Linked DNA regions of Homo sapiens: regions 1, 2 and 4 are each reported to be linked to region 3. The links are microRNA targets in miRTarBase. Many come from high-throughput screens and were not tested one by one. Region 3 holds a microRNA gene; each other region holds the end of a gene's coding sequence.
Evidence for each region. The annotated mature microRNA hsa-miR-605-3p reads AGAAGGCACUAUGAGAUUUAGA and lies in region 3 at 2,274-2,295, shown strand. An mRNA with a match to its seed (bases 2 to 7 or 8) in the 3' UTR can be bound and repressed. Matches are read on the target gene's strand: a 7mer-m8 pairs with bases 2 to 8, a 7mer-A1 pairs with bases 2 to 7 and ends in A, and an 8mer does both.

Region 1 (3,183 bases), not on the chromosome of region 3:
CACTTGACCTCCCCTTCGGTGCACGGACTTCCTCCTTCAGAAGAGCATTCTGCCGCTGAGGTCATCAATATCTCAGTGGCGTGTGGTTTTTCCCTTCGCATATGCTGGATATACTCTATGGCCTTCTCTCCTTGGAGTGTTGGGACTGCGTCCCACAAACTGGAGGCTGCCTTTGATGTGGTCCCTACGATTTCATTCCAGTGCATTATGATGGGCCCATTCGTCAGCCGCAGATTGAAATCTCTGTTGTTGCTTGTCACTCTCCACCCCGACGTCATCATTATCACTCACTTCCTACAACCCAGGGAGCAGCCACTGCAGCAGCAGTAGTCGGGGAGGCGGAGGGATAGAGGAATCTGAGGAAGTCACTGACAAGAAGCAGAGTTCCCCTGCCTACACACACACACTCACTTGCTCTCACTCACATAAAACACAGGCAAGAACCACCTCCTCACTCCTAAAATCCCAGTTCAAAATTTAGCTATATGTCTTGTCTGTTAAGAAGGCTTCATACTTCAGAAGTTTATAAAATGCTTTGATTTCACGCCTAGGCTCTTTGCTAATCATTTCTAGGTTCATACCTGTGCTCCAGATGACAGAGATAACCATATGCCTGACCAGTGGAGCACTATGCACTGTAACTACATTTTGGATCCATTTATTTATTCTTTCACATCCAGGACTTTTATTTATTAACAGAATGTTTTCCAGCTAATGTTTATATCTGGTGGGCGGTAAATTAATTACAAAATATAACACTGACAAAGCCTTTATATTTTTCTTTTTTTAAACCTGACAGCATAACTTCCTCTAAGATAAAGATGTTTTAAAGATGCTTGAAGGCCAGATGCAGTGGCTCATGCCTGTAATCCCAGCACTTTGGGAGGCTGAGGCAGGCAGATCCCTTGAGGCCAGGAGTTTGAGACCAGCCTGGCCAACATGGTGAAACCCCGTCTCTACTAAAAATACATTAGCTGGGCATGGTAGCACACGCCTGTAATCTAGCTACTCGGGAGGCGCAGGCAGGAAAGTCACTTGAGTCCGGGAGGTGGAGGTTGCAGTGAGCCACGATCATGCCACTGCACTCCAGCCTGGGTGACAGAGTAAGACCCTATCACCAAAAAAAAAAAAAAAAAAAAAACCACAAAACCCAAAAACCAACGCTTGGAAGCCATAGAAGTTTTATTGTAAGCATTTAAAAACAACAACAACAACACTAGGCTGGGCGCGGAGACTCACGCCTGTAATCCCAGCACTTTGGGAGGCCAAGGTGAGCGAATCACAAGGTCAGGAGATTGAGACCATCCTGGCCAACATGGTGAAACCCCGTGTCTACTAAAAATACAAAAATTAGCTGGGTGTGGTGGCGCACACCTGGAGTCCCAGCTACTCGGGAGGCTGAGGCAGAAGAATCGCTTGAACCTGGAAGGCAGAGGTTGTGCTGAATCGAGATCATGCCACTGTACTCCAGCCTGGTGACAGAGCAAGACTCTTTCTCAAAAACAAAACAAAAAACAAAACAAAACAAAAAAACACTATGACACTATAGAATAATTATCAATTTTATTCTATAGTGTTATAGCGTTTATTCTGTTACTAAATGAAAGCAAAGACTTCCTCTCAGCAGTCTCTCCTATGTATTAGGCTGAAGTAATTGCTGTCTGGAAAAGGAAATTTGCAGTTTCGGATGATGTAGTTACTTGAACATGAAAACAACTGGGTAAGAAATAGAGTGGTGATCATGTAAATGTTTTGTCCTAGTGATAGCCATCATATTAATTATATGAGAAATATTGGCAGATGATTAATTTGAGAAATTTCACAATCATTTCTAAGGAACAAACACAAATTACTGTAGAGTCAGCTCTCCATATCCCCACGTTCAAAATCTGCAGATTCAACCAACCACAGATCACAAATATTTGGGGGGGAAAAAACCAGTGTAACAGCAAAAAATAATACAAATTTAAAAACGTAGTATTAACCACTATTTATATAGAATTCATATTATATTAGGTATTGTAAGTAATCTAGAAATGATTTAAAGTATACAAGAAGATGTATCTATATTATATGCAAACACAATGCCATTTTATATAAGGAACATGCATGCCAAAACATAGGTTTTGGTATCCGTGGGAGCCCTAGAACCAGTAATCACCAGATACCAAGGGACAATTGTATTGTCAACTTACGTGCAGAAAAGAAAAAAACAAAAAAAAGGAAAACCTAAATAATTTTAGGAAAAAGCTTGACTTTTTCAGACATTTTCACAGTATTGAGTACACTATTCTATAAGAGCATGGCTATATTTTAGTAACCCTGAATATTGTTAATAGTGTAATGTAGCTACAAAGGGTGAAAAAATTAGAATTTTCAGACTATGCCTTTAATCTGGCATTCAGAATAATATCTCTATGGGAAAATCACCACTGTTGAAGGTTTATTTGTTAGATTCCTGATAATGCTGATCAAAAGATAAAAGATCAAAAGATTAACCATACATTTGTTTTGTTTTTTTAAAAAGTATTTATTTTTTACTAGTGAGGATGGAACTAGGGGAAGAAGTTTACAGAAAAGATGTCCATATACAAAGAAAGAAATAGCAAAATATTTTTGGTCATAATTTAGAAAGAAACTAATCTATAAAATGGAGACAATTCTCCCCAATTCATCTCTCTCATAGAAGAGCATAAGCACGGGCTCTCAGTTCCTTGATATCCTCAAGAGGCCACGGATACGTCTGACAAGAGCCTGTATGAAACTATATCGAGATCGAACTTTTGAATATAATCCTTCAATGTCCAGAAGTTTCTTTTGTAGTGATTCTCCAAAAGCGTTGATTGCATCAGCCTGAAGCTAGCGGTGACACAAAAGACATTTTGTTAAAATTGTTGTCTCAAATATTTCTTTTATTCTAAGTCTTCCAATTTAAAACACTTTAGAATTTTTGTAATGTGGTTCTTTCAATGTAAATACTTTTGAATTTTTGTAATGTGTTACTAAATTAACTAAACATTCACATTTTCTACCTTAGAATTTTTTGGTTTAATTCTCATGTTTTTCCTGCTTTCTTTTCTTGTATAAATTTAAAAACCTGCTTTAAATAGCAATGAATGTTGATGCTGATGCTGATATACTAACATACACACAAAAACATTTCCTGAAGGGCCATACAAGAAG
Region 2 (3,183 bases), not on the chromosome of region 3:
CGTTTTTATAGGTTGACGTCTTCCTTGGTCTATAATTTCCATGGGACAAAGACATTTCTCTACCTGGGAGTGCCCTTAAATTCAAGCTCTGGAAATCAAGGTCTAGGGAAAAATTCATTCACCAGTCTGAGACCTACCTTCCAGGTCCCCATTTTCTGTCCCAGTTGTCTTTTCTCTAGATTATAAACACTAAACAAACATGTGTGGTCTCTTTAGAGGGGATCCCAAAACCCAGCCCTGGTGGTTTGGTCTTACCTTGTGGCCTCAGAGGGCTACCTTATCATTATATGATAGCCTAACAACAATGTGGTATAGTGGGGCGGGTGGTGAGCAGGTGTCATTTTCCTTAGAGAAACCTACTCTACTTCCCAGCCAGGAGCCACTTAGTTGGAATGGGGACTGACACTTTATAGTTAAGTGAGCACATCACACTGATCTCTAAAACAAGACTTCAGTGGGGCAGCATTCCCCATTACCAGTCCAGCCTCCACAGCTTCTGATGGCTCCCACAGCTGCCCTTTCTTTATTTTGGTGTGACTAGCCCACTGCAGAGCCATTCCCATTACAGCCACTGCTATGTTCCTCTTTTAGGAACAAGTGACTACCCTGAAAAAAGAAGAGATGAAACAAATCACCCTTCAAATACAAAGTAAAATCATTCTTTAATTATTAAAAAAAAATCACTGTTGGGCTTTTTTTTTTAAAGGTCCATAAATTTTCAATGCAATGTTGAACTGGGGAAATGGTTATAGCAGCTCTCACATAAGTTATTTGAATTAATAAACATTATCACAGTATTAAGAAGGCAAGGTAAACAAATAGCTTAAGTATTTTATTTGTTTGCAACTAAGCTTGTTAACACTATATAATGAAAATGTACAAAGAATAATGTTGCAGTTTTTGGTTAGATTTAAGTCAAAGACATTCATTAATAAGGAATCTTCGAATGTGAATATTCCAGAAATTTCTCTAAGCCATCTGATCACAACAACTGTCTCTGAATATTACCTTACTTTGGAAGGTATTGGCATACATTTGAATTAAACTCAGAATTTTTCAAAATAAGCCCTAATTAAAAAAACTATTCTATATTCAAAGTAAAACAATATTAATAGAACTTTCCTTTCCAGAAACAATGAAGGAAACAAGGCATTTTGTAAAATGTGGTCCTGAACAAGTCACAGTAAAAAATAAATGTATACTTAACTTCCACCTCCTCAAAACAGAGGCTACTTTCTGTTCCTCAGCCTTGGAAACAAGGTGAAGAACAGCCTATATGCGACTTCGGGCAGGGGGTTGCCAAAACAAAGCTGAAGCAGTTGACCATGGACACCTCAAAAGAATTTGGGAGAACCCGACCAAAGGATCCAAATTCTATGTTTTTTTTTTTTTTTTGAGACGAAGTCTCGTTTTGTTGCCCAGGCTGGAGTGCAGTGGCATGATCTGTGCTCACTGCAACCGCCACCTCCAGGGTTCAAGTGATTCTCCTGCCTCAGCCTCCCAAGCAGCTGGGATTACAGACGCCTGCCACCACGCCCGGCTAACTTTGTTGTATTTTTAGTAGAGATGGGGTTTCACCATATTGGCCAGGGTGGTCTCGAACTCCTGACCTCAAGTGATCCGCATGCCTCGGACTCCCAAAGTGCTGGGATTACAGGCGTGAGCCACTGCGCCCAGCCCAAATTATATTTTTTAATAACTAATACAAAGGTGAAGTGGCTCCTCCCAAGTAGCAGTGCTGCCGGGGCCTGGCCCAGGCCTAGCCCTGGGCTCACCTCTCATGCTCCCAAGCCAACCCTGATGCTCCTGGCTCCAGGGTAGACCTTTTCCCTTTAGAGGTTCAGTGTCCAGGGAGCTCTATGATAATTGTGTGAATGAGGTGAGCGCTGACTCCATGTGAGTATTTTAAGGCTTGGAGTCAAAGAATTAACCTAACATGCCCAGGCAGAGTCCATGTGTCAATGGCCCGTCTCCAGTTTGTTCTAATTTCTCACCACGTGTCTGTAGATATAGGACCGCAGACCTTCGCTTTATCATCATAATCACATCTAATGTCCATCCTAACTTACGATTCATATTCTGTGCCTGGAAACAGTCCCTGTATTTAACAATACCTACACATAAAAACAATCCACTGTTACAACTTGTATGGTCACAAAACATTAATGATCTTCTTTAGACCAAGCAAATGTTTTTTTACCATAATTGTCGTGCACCAAATTCACAGCCAGAATCCCCAAGATCAAAAAAAAATTTTTGCACAATACAAATAATAACTTAAAATACACATACACACATATACACACACTCTCACACGCACTTCTTACAGAACTGTGCTTGGGGAAACTCCATTTGTTGAATGCCACTGAAGGCATATTTTGCTAAACTGCTGCTCCAGGTATTTTTGTTTGGAAAATCTATCACAGTAGGGCACAGCTGTTTATTGGATGAGCAGAAAAGAAAGATATGCTTGTGGCAACCAGAAAGTTTTACGGTCTTTCAAGTTGTATAAAATGGACCTGCAGAAACGTTTAAGTGTTCTCAGGATGCAAAGTTGGAGCTGAAATGTGACATCAAACCAGTTGCAAAAAGTGTACAGCAGCCATCTCTTGAGGTCAAACCTGGTACCCAGATATGTGACAAAGCTTCATGACACATCTGTAAATTAAGAATAAAAAACAAAAAGGGTAAGAATACTAAAAACTGTAGTGTCATGCTTTAAAAATTTTCACTAACAGTAAATGTGAGAAATAGCATGAACGATGACTCACCACTTAAAAGATACTAAAGATCAAGAATTTAAGGAACCTGACTGAAATTCAGTTAGATATACAACTGTTAATATTTTATGCTTTGAATATCTGGTAGTTGCAAATTATTTAGAATAAGAAATCCTGACCACACTTGATAAACTAACTTAAGGAATCAACTTTCATAAATTAACAACTGAAACTATCTTTCTGGAGAAAAGACAGGTAACAAATTGGTGCTCAAGTCAGACTACCTAGATTTTAATCCTAGCTGAACCACTAGCTGTATAAGCTTGGGCAAATTATTTAACCTCTTTAAATGCTATCTTTACCAGTAAAATGGAGCTAATAATAGTACTCCCTCATAGGGTCACTGTGAGGCTTATATAAGCTTTGGTGTGGATTTAATACTCTTAGCATAGTGCTGGGCACA
Region 3 (3,183 bases):
TTACTATCTGGAATATAATAAAAATGCTGCTTTAACTGCTAAGTCGCCATCTGTTACCAGCTCTTTGCTACTGGTTTATCTTTTTTCCTTTTAAAACGTGAATTCTTGGATTTTCATATTATAATTTTATACTTACCTTAAATTAGGATTGAGAGGAAACTTTGACAACACCTCTTAAAAGAAAATTATTAACTTGTAAAAATCATACTTTTAGGTTTGGGTAATAGCTGGGGAGAAAGCAAAAGCAAATCAGGAAGCTTGTAGGTGACTCATGTGCATTTCTATGTATGAGCAACAGGAATGGTAGAACTTTTGTTCCACTGCAGTTGTACAATCTAATTATTCACTGATCAATCTACACATACTGCATTACTATGTAGGTTTTAAGATGGCATCTTTGCCATATGTCTCTTTTTTAACCTTGATATCTTACATGTAATAGGTTTTCATCAGTTTTGATGAAATCATGATGATAATGATTACGATAATGCCTCCCATTATTTTCTCTTTAGTATAAGGCATTTAATGGCTTTTCCTAAAAAATAATGCAAGCAGTTCTTAACCCTAACAATGAGGGATAGAGTAGGTGTCCTTACCTACACTTGTTACTATAAGTGATATATTTATATAAAGAGATGTATGTAAAGGAAATTCATTCACTCATTCATTTATGTACCTAACCATTATTCCTTCATCAGTTCTTGTTAAGCACTTACTATATTAGGCCCTGTATACATTTTACATGAATTATCTCCTAACCTTATAACAATGGTGTGTAAAGAAACTAATATTATCCATTTTATAGATGATAAATTCATGATTAGGGATATTAATTATGATGTCCAAATTTGCACAGGTGGCAAATGATACATTTGAAATCTGAACCCACACAATCTAATTCAAGAGTTACATTGCCACTACTTCAAAAAATGTGGTTTATTTTATAGGCAAAGAAAAGGCACTGAATTGAATATTATGACTAAGCTTGTGATCTTAAAAGATTTAGGTTCTGAGTTGGACCTGATTAAAAATTCCAGCTCCACCAATTACTGATTACATGAACCTGGTGGGAGTTGTTCAGTCTTTCCATACTCCAGGTTCTTCCTTTTTCAACAGTGTTGCTGAGCCATTAAATGAAACAGCTTTATGTAGAAAGCACTCAGCATAGTAAAATCATTATAAATGTTAGCTATTACACACTTACTTCTCTCCTTTTCTGGAGGAAGGGAGAAGATGGGTTTTTATTTTACAATCTTATTTTATAAAACTATAAGCCTGGAGTCTAGGGGGTAATGTAGGAATTGAAATATGAAATGGTTCTGATCTAAGGTAGAAACATTAGATGGATGAAAGAATATCATGCCGATAGAATTAAAAATTGTTAGGTTGGAGTATTTTATGTGGGCTGAGAGTAAAATAAATCTACAATTTGTGTGAGTGGTAGAATGTGAAGCGATTAAATAGGATAGGGAATTGGAAGGGAAGTGCTAGGACAATTCCTGGCACATAGTAGGCATGCAACAAAAGGTTGGAAGCTTGATTGCTGTGATCTGTATGCAAAGATCATATGGTTGCATAAATGTGTTAATATTGTTCTTTGGTAAGTGTTTTCCTGGTATTTAAGTGCAATGGAGCACAAAGGTTTGTTGTCTAAAGTGTAATAATGAAAGGAATATGACCATTACTCCATCTGTCATTTTCACTCATGCCTTTAAATGAGCCCTTTGCTCCAATAAAATGGTTCAGTTAATGGTTCCTTAAAGCCACACACACTTACCTGTCTTTTTGCCTTTGATGAATTTATTGCTTAAGACTTTAGCCAGTATCTCTTTTTGCCCATTCTTTTTATCTGTATTTATTTTTATATGTTTTTTGAGATGGAGTCTCACTGTGTTACCCAGGCTAGAGTGCAGTGGTACGATCTCGGCTCACTGCAACCTCCGCCTCCTGGGTTCAAGCAATTCTCCTTCCTCAGCCTCCTGAATAGGTAGGATTACAGGCATCCTCCACCATGCCTGGCTAAGTTTTGTAATTTTAGTAGAGATGGGGTTTCACCATGTTGGCCAGGCTGGTCTTGAACTCCTGATCTCAGGTGATCCACCCACCTCGGCCTCCCAGAGTGCTGAGATTGCAGGTGTGAGCCACCATGCCCCGCCTCTTTTTGCTCATTCTTTAAAGTAGGAACTTTGGTAGAACTTTCACAGCCTGTAACATATGTCTCTAGCCCTAGCTTGGTTCTAAATCCCATGGTGCCTTCTCCTTGGGAAAAACAGAGAAGGCACTATGAGATTTAGAATCAAGTTAGGACTGCAGATACAGGTTACCTATGTTACAGGCTGACAGCCACAGGTATATTGCTCTCTGCACATGTGTTTTTTCCTGGCCTCTCAATGACATTATAAGCTTCTATTATACCTCATGTGGCGTAACTGCTCTGCAATAATAGAAATTCAATAAAGGACTCTTTAATTTACAATTAAAGTCAGGATTGAATTTTGTGGAAAATCTTGATGCAAATGTACAAAAGAACTTCAAGAAAATTAGAATGCCATGAGTCATGCATTTCCTGGTACTATTCATTCTTCTTTAGGTACTATCATTCTGCTCAACCTAACATTTCTACCACCTACACCTACCATCTGGAATTATAGGCAGAGGGTATGAAGGGTGTCAAATCTTGAAAGAAAATTGCCTTTTCTCCAAAGTTGATGAAACTAAACCACAGTTGATTGGATTACTTGCTCAGCAAGAGAGTAGAACCTTGTCTTTATGAATTAAATGTCACTATTTCGTCTATTTGAAGATGACCTTATAGAGGATCATGGCTTACGACAAGTTATTTTGCTGAGGCTTGAATTTGAATTGTGTGTTGGTGAATGAGGCACTGCACACACAGTCAGAGCAGCTGCTCTCCATGCAGCTTTTCTTCTCTTTGGTTTTCTGTATCATACACAGTAATCCTTGGGTGTTATTCACATCTACTTCTTGTGGAGTAATAGTATATTATAGTGGTATCATAAATTCGGGATTTATGAAAGTTGTGGGACATACCTTCATGTGAATCTCAGTGGGTTACTGTATTTAATGATTTTTTCTCTTTTGTTTTGATTAAGAAGCTCTTTGCTGGGATGCTGAGTTCCGATTTAAATATTATACACCCTTCTTATTTCTCTCTGCAAAATT
Region 4 (3,160 bases), not on the chromosome of region 3:
ACCACCGCCTCTGTGGTCAGAACCTGCATGGCCAGAGCCCCCACGGCCAGGGCCGGCCGCTGCTTCCTGTAGGCAGGGGCTCCTCTGCCAGGTCCGCCGACTGCAGCGTGCCCAGCCCAGCCCTCGACAAGACCTCGGCAACCACATCGCGTTCCTCAACACCTGCTTCTGTGACAGCTATCGACACCAACGGACTCTGAGCCCCGGACTCTGCTTACCCTGATGGCTGCTCAGCACCACAGAGTGCTTGGGCTGAGGGACTGACTGTTGGAACCCGTGCATGTAGCTGCCGGGTCATCAGCAAGAAATGAATTGGAGGCAGGAAGAGTCCAAGCCTGAATAATAACACCCCACAGCCTCTCTGTGCACTTGCTGTCTGCGGAGCCAGTGTGCCATTCTCTGCACATGGGCAGCCAGCCTGAGCTGCCTCCTCCATGGCTTTCCTGGTTTGTTCCTCTCTCCACTGAAGCTGACTTAGCCGGCCCCTTTTCAGTGTAGACCACCAGCTCCCCTCCCCATCTCCTTGAGTCAGCAGACTGTCCAATGTGCTCAGCCAGGCTGGAGGCGGCAGGCGGCAGGCAGCAGGCTGTGGAGGAGGCCCCTCGGTCAGGGAGCGGCCTGCCTCACCCCTGAATAGCTCCTTCGGCCCCATCTCCATCCTCAGCAGATGACACTGATTGGCCTCACGGGGACTTGGGTAAGCAACAGGCGGCATTCAGGACTCTTCTCAACCCTGCTGTTCAGACTTGATAAGATCTCAGAGTCCACAGGAAAGAAGTCACTGTTGCAATAAAAGCACCCGTAGTAGCAAAAACATAAAACAAATAAAACTTCCCCCACATCACAGATGATTTTGGACAAGATTTTCCAACCTTGCTGGCTACTTTAGTTTGGGACCTGTTTTTTTTCTCATTTGATTTTGCTTGTGCAGAAAATAGTTTCCAGCACATGGATTGATCTGAGAGAGAATGAGGCTCAGTTGTGGATAGTCTGTTTTCTCTGAGCATGTTGGCCAACTAGTATCGTCAAATTATTGAGTGGATCATCTCTTGGAAATGCAGAACTTCTGCCACCACTTGGCTATTTGCACAGTCATCTTGTTCTGTGTCCTTTTATCTCTCAGACCACACACATCTGGAACGCTGTGGGCATCTTCTGCCCATGGGCTCCATTTGGCACCTGCTGAGCCACAGTTGTCCTGCTGGATGTGCTGTGCAGGTTGGTAGGACTTGCCCCCACTGTCAAGGCCTGGTCTCATCTGAAAAGCCCTCCTGGACCTCAAAGAATTCTTCAGACCTCATAGTTACAGGTCATTATATCTACTATGTTGATTTATCATCAGGCACACAACTTCTGTTTCCTTCTCTTGTGTTATCTGATAGCGTCCCTCCTTGAGCTCATCAGAAAGGTTTTATGAAATGTGAACCATTTTGGGAAAAGCTGATCAATTTTTCTTCCTAGCTTCCCATTTTCAAATGGGACATCACTCATATCCCTTTCAGAATGTTAGGAACTGCCTCCCACATTCTTCCCTGTCTTTTTGGGTTTTGTTTTTTGTTGTTGTGGTGGTTTTTTAACACAAAGTCTCACTCTGTTGCCCAGGCTGGAGTGCAGTGGCATGATCTTGGCTCACTGCAACCTCTGCCTTCCAGGTTCAAGCAATTCTCCTGCCTCAGCCTCCCGAGTAGCTGAGATTACAGGCGCCCACCACCACGCCCAGCTAATTTTTGTATTTTTAGTAGAGACAGGGTTTCACCATGTTGGCCAGGCTGATCTCGAACTCCTGACCTCAGGTGACCTGCCTTGGCCTCCCAAAGTGCAGGGATTACAAGCGTGAGCCACCATGCCCGGCCTGTCTTTTTGGTTTTGATGGGAGTCTGAGGACCCCGACCCCTCCTGCTCTCCATCTTTGAGCCTCTGGCATCCTCTCACACCCAGAAATCAGTTGGAGTAAGTTTAATTGGCCCTGCTCCAGCTGGCCTTTGAAGCACAAGTTTAAATCTCCACCTTCTGTGCACTGACCAGAGTCTAAAATAAAAGTTGTCAGTACCATAAAGGAAAAGGGATCCACACAGGTAGCCTTCTCCTTGGATACAGGTACATCTTACTGTAAGAATTTCAAGTCCTGGCTGGGCGCAGTGGCTCACTCCTGTAATCCCAGCACTTTGAGAGACCGAGGCAGGCAGATCACTTGAGGTCAGGAATTCAAGACCAACCTGGCCAACATGGTGAAACCCTGTCTCTAATAAAAAAAAAATAGAAAAATCAGCCGGGTGTGGTGGCACACACCTGTAATCCTAGCTACTCAGGAGGCTGAGGCAAGAGAATCTCTTGAACCTGTGAGCCAGAGGTTGCAGTGAGCCGAGATTCCACCACTGCACTCCAGCCTGGGCAACAGAGCAAAACTCTGTCTCAAAAAAAAAAAAAAAAAGGCAAAATTAAAGAATTTCAAGTCCCTAATTTACTCTAACCAAGCATTTTCAGTCTTACAAAGAAATCTAGTGCACGACACCTTTAAAATGCCTAGATTTCCATTGCCTAAAGTAAGGTGTGACCAGTGAAACAACAGCAGAGAATCATGTTCCTTTGCTGTGGAACACATAAGCCCCACAGTTTTCCAGTCAGCCTAATACATGGGTATCCCCCGACCCCATCTGCCTCCTTAAGCCACAGTCCTTGGTGGGGAACTCTAAGGGGGACGGAGTCAGTACCCCGGACAGGGCCACATTTGCATGAGACATGGCTGTCTCACAGGTCACAGAGCCATTACAACAGCTTACTAGTTTTTCATGGATTTGTTGGATTAACACCTTAAGCAGGTTTTTTATTGTTATTTTGTTTGTTTGTTTGTTTTGAGACGGGAGTTTCTCTCTTGTCTCCCAGGCTGGAGTGCAATCGCGCAATCTCGGCTCACGGTAACCTCTGCCTCCCAGGTTCAAGCGAGTCTCCTGCCTCAGCCTTCTGAGTAGCTGGGATTACAGGCATGCGCCACCACGCCCAACTAATTTTGTATTTTTAGTAGAGACGGGGTTTCTCCTTGTTGGTCAGGCTGGTCTCAAACCCCGGACCTCAGGTGATCCCCCCACCTTGGCCTCCCAAAGTGCCAGGATTACAGGCATGAGCCACTGTGTCCGGTCTTGAGCAGGTTTTTAAAATCTCC

Region 1: the mRNA of NUP205 is a reported target of hsa-miR-605-3p. The part of its 3' UTR that is shown has no 7-base or 8-base seed match.
Region 2: miRTarBase lists AKIRIN1 as a target of hsa-miR-605-3p. Seed matches in the 3' UTR shown: 8mer at 2,367-2,374 and 7mer-m8 at 802-808.
Region 4: miRTarBase lists CBFA2T2 as a target of hsa-miR-605-3p. Seed matches in the 3' UTR shown: 7mer-m8 at 1,643-1,649.

The regions. Positions count from the first base shown.
Region 1 is chr7:135,648,080-135,651,262 of GRCh38, reverse strand. It overlaps NUP205 (nucleoporin 205), which reads right to left. Exons shown (of 43, transcript NM_015135.3): 43 at 2,510-2,859. The coding sequence ends at 2,707. It also overlaps the pseudogene LOC124901801. Among named protein-coding and RNA genes, the nearest start is that of STMP1, 13 kb to the left of the region's middle.
Region 2 is chr1:39,003,520-39,006,702 of GRCh38, reverse strand. AKIRIN1 (akirin 1) reads right to left here. Exons shown (of 5, transcript NM_024595.3): 5 at 644-2,658. The coding sequence ends at 2,648. Among named protein-coding and RNA genes, the nearest start is that of AKIRIN1, 14 kb to the right of the region's middle.
Region 3 is chr10:51,297,350-51,300,532 of GRCh38, forward strand. MIR605 (microRNA 605) reads left to right here and starts at 2,224; the gene lies at 2,224-2,306. The region is part of intron 2 of PRKG1 (protein kinase cGMP-dependent 1); the gene reads left to right.
Region 4 is chr20:33,644,447-33,647,606 of GRCh38, forward strand. It overlaps CBFA2T2 (CBFA2/RUNX1 partner transcriptional co-repressor 2), which reads left to right. Exons shown (of 11, transcript NM_001032999.3): 11 at 1-3,160. The coding sequence ends at 200. Among named protein-coding and RNA genes, the nearest start is that of C20orf144, 16 kb to the right of the region's middle.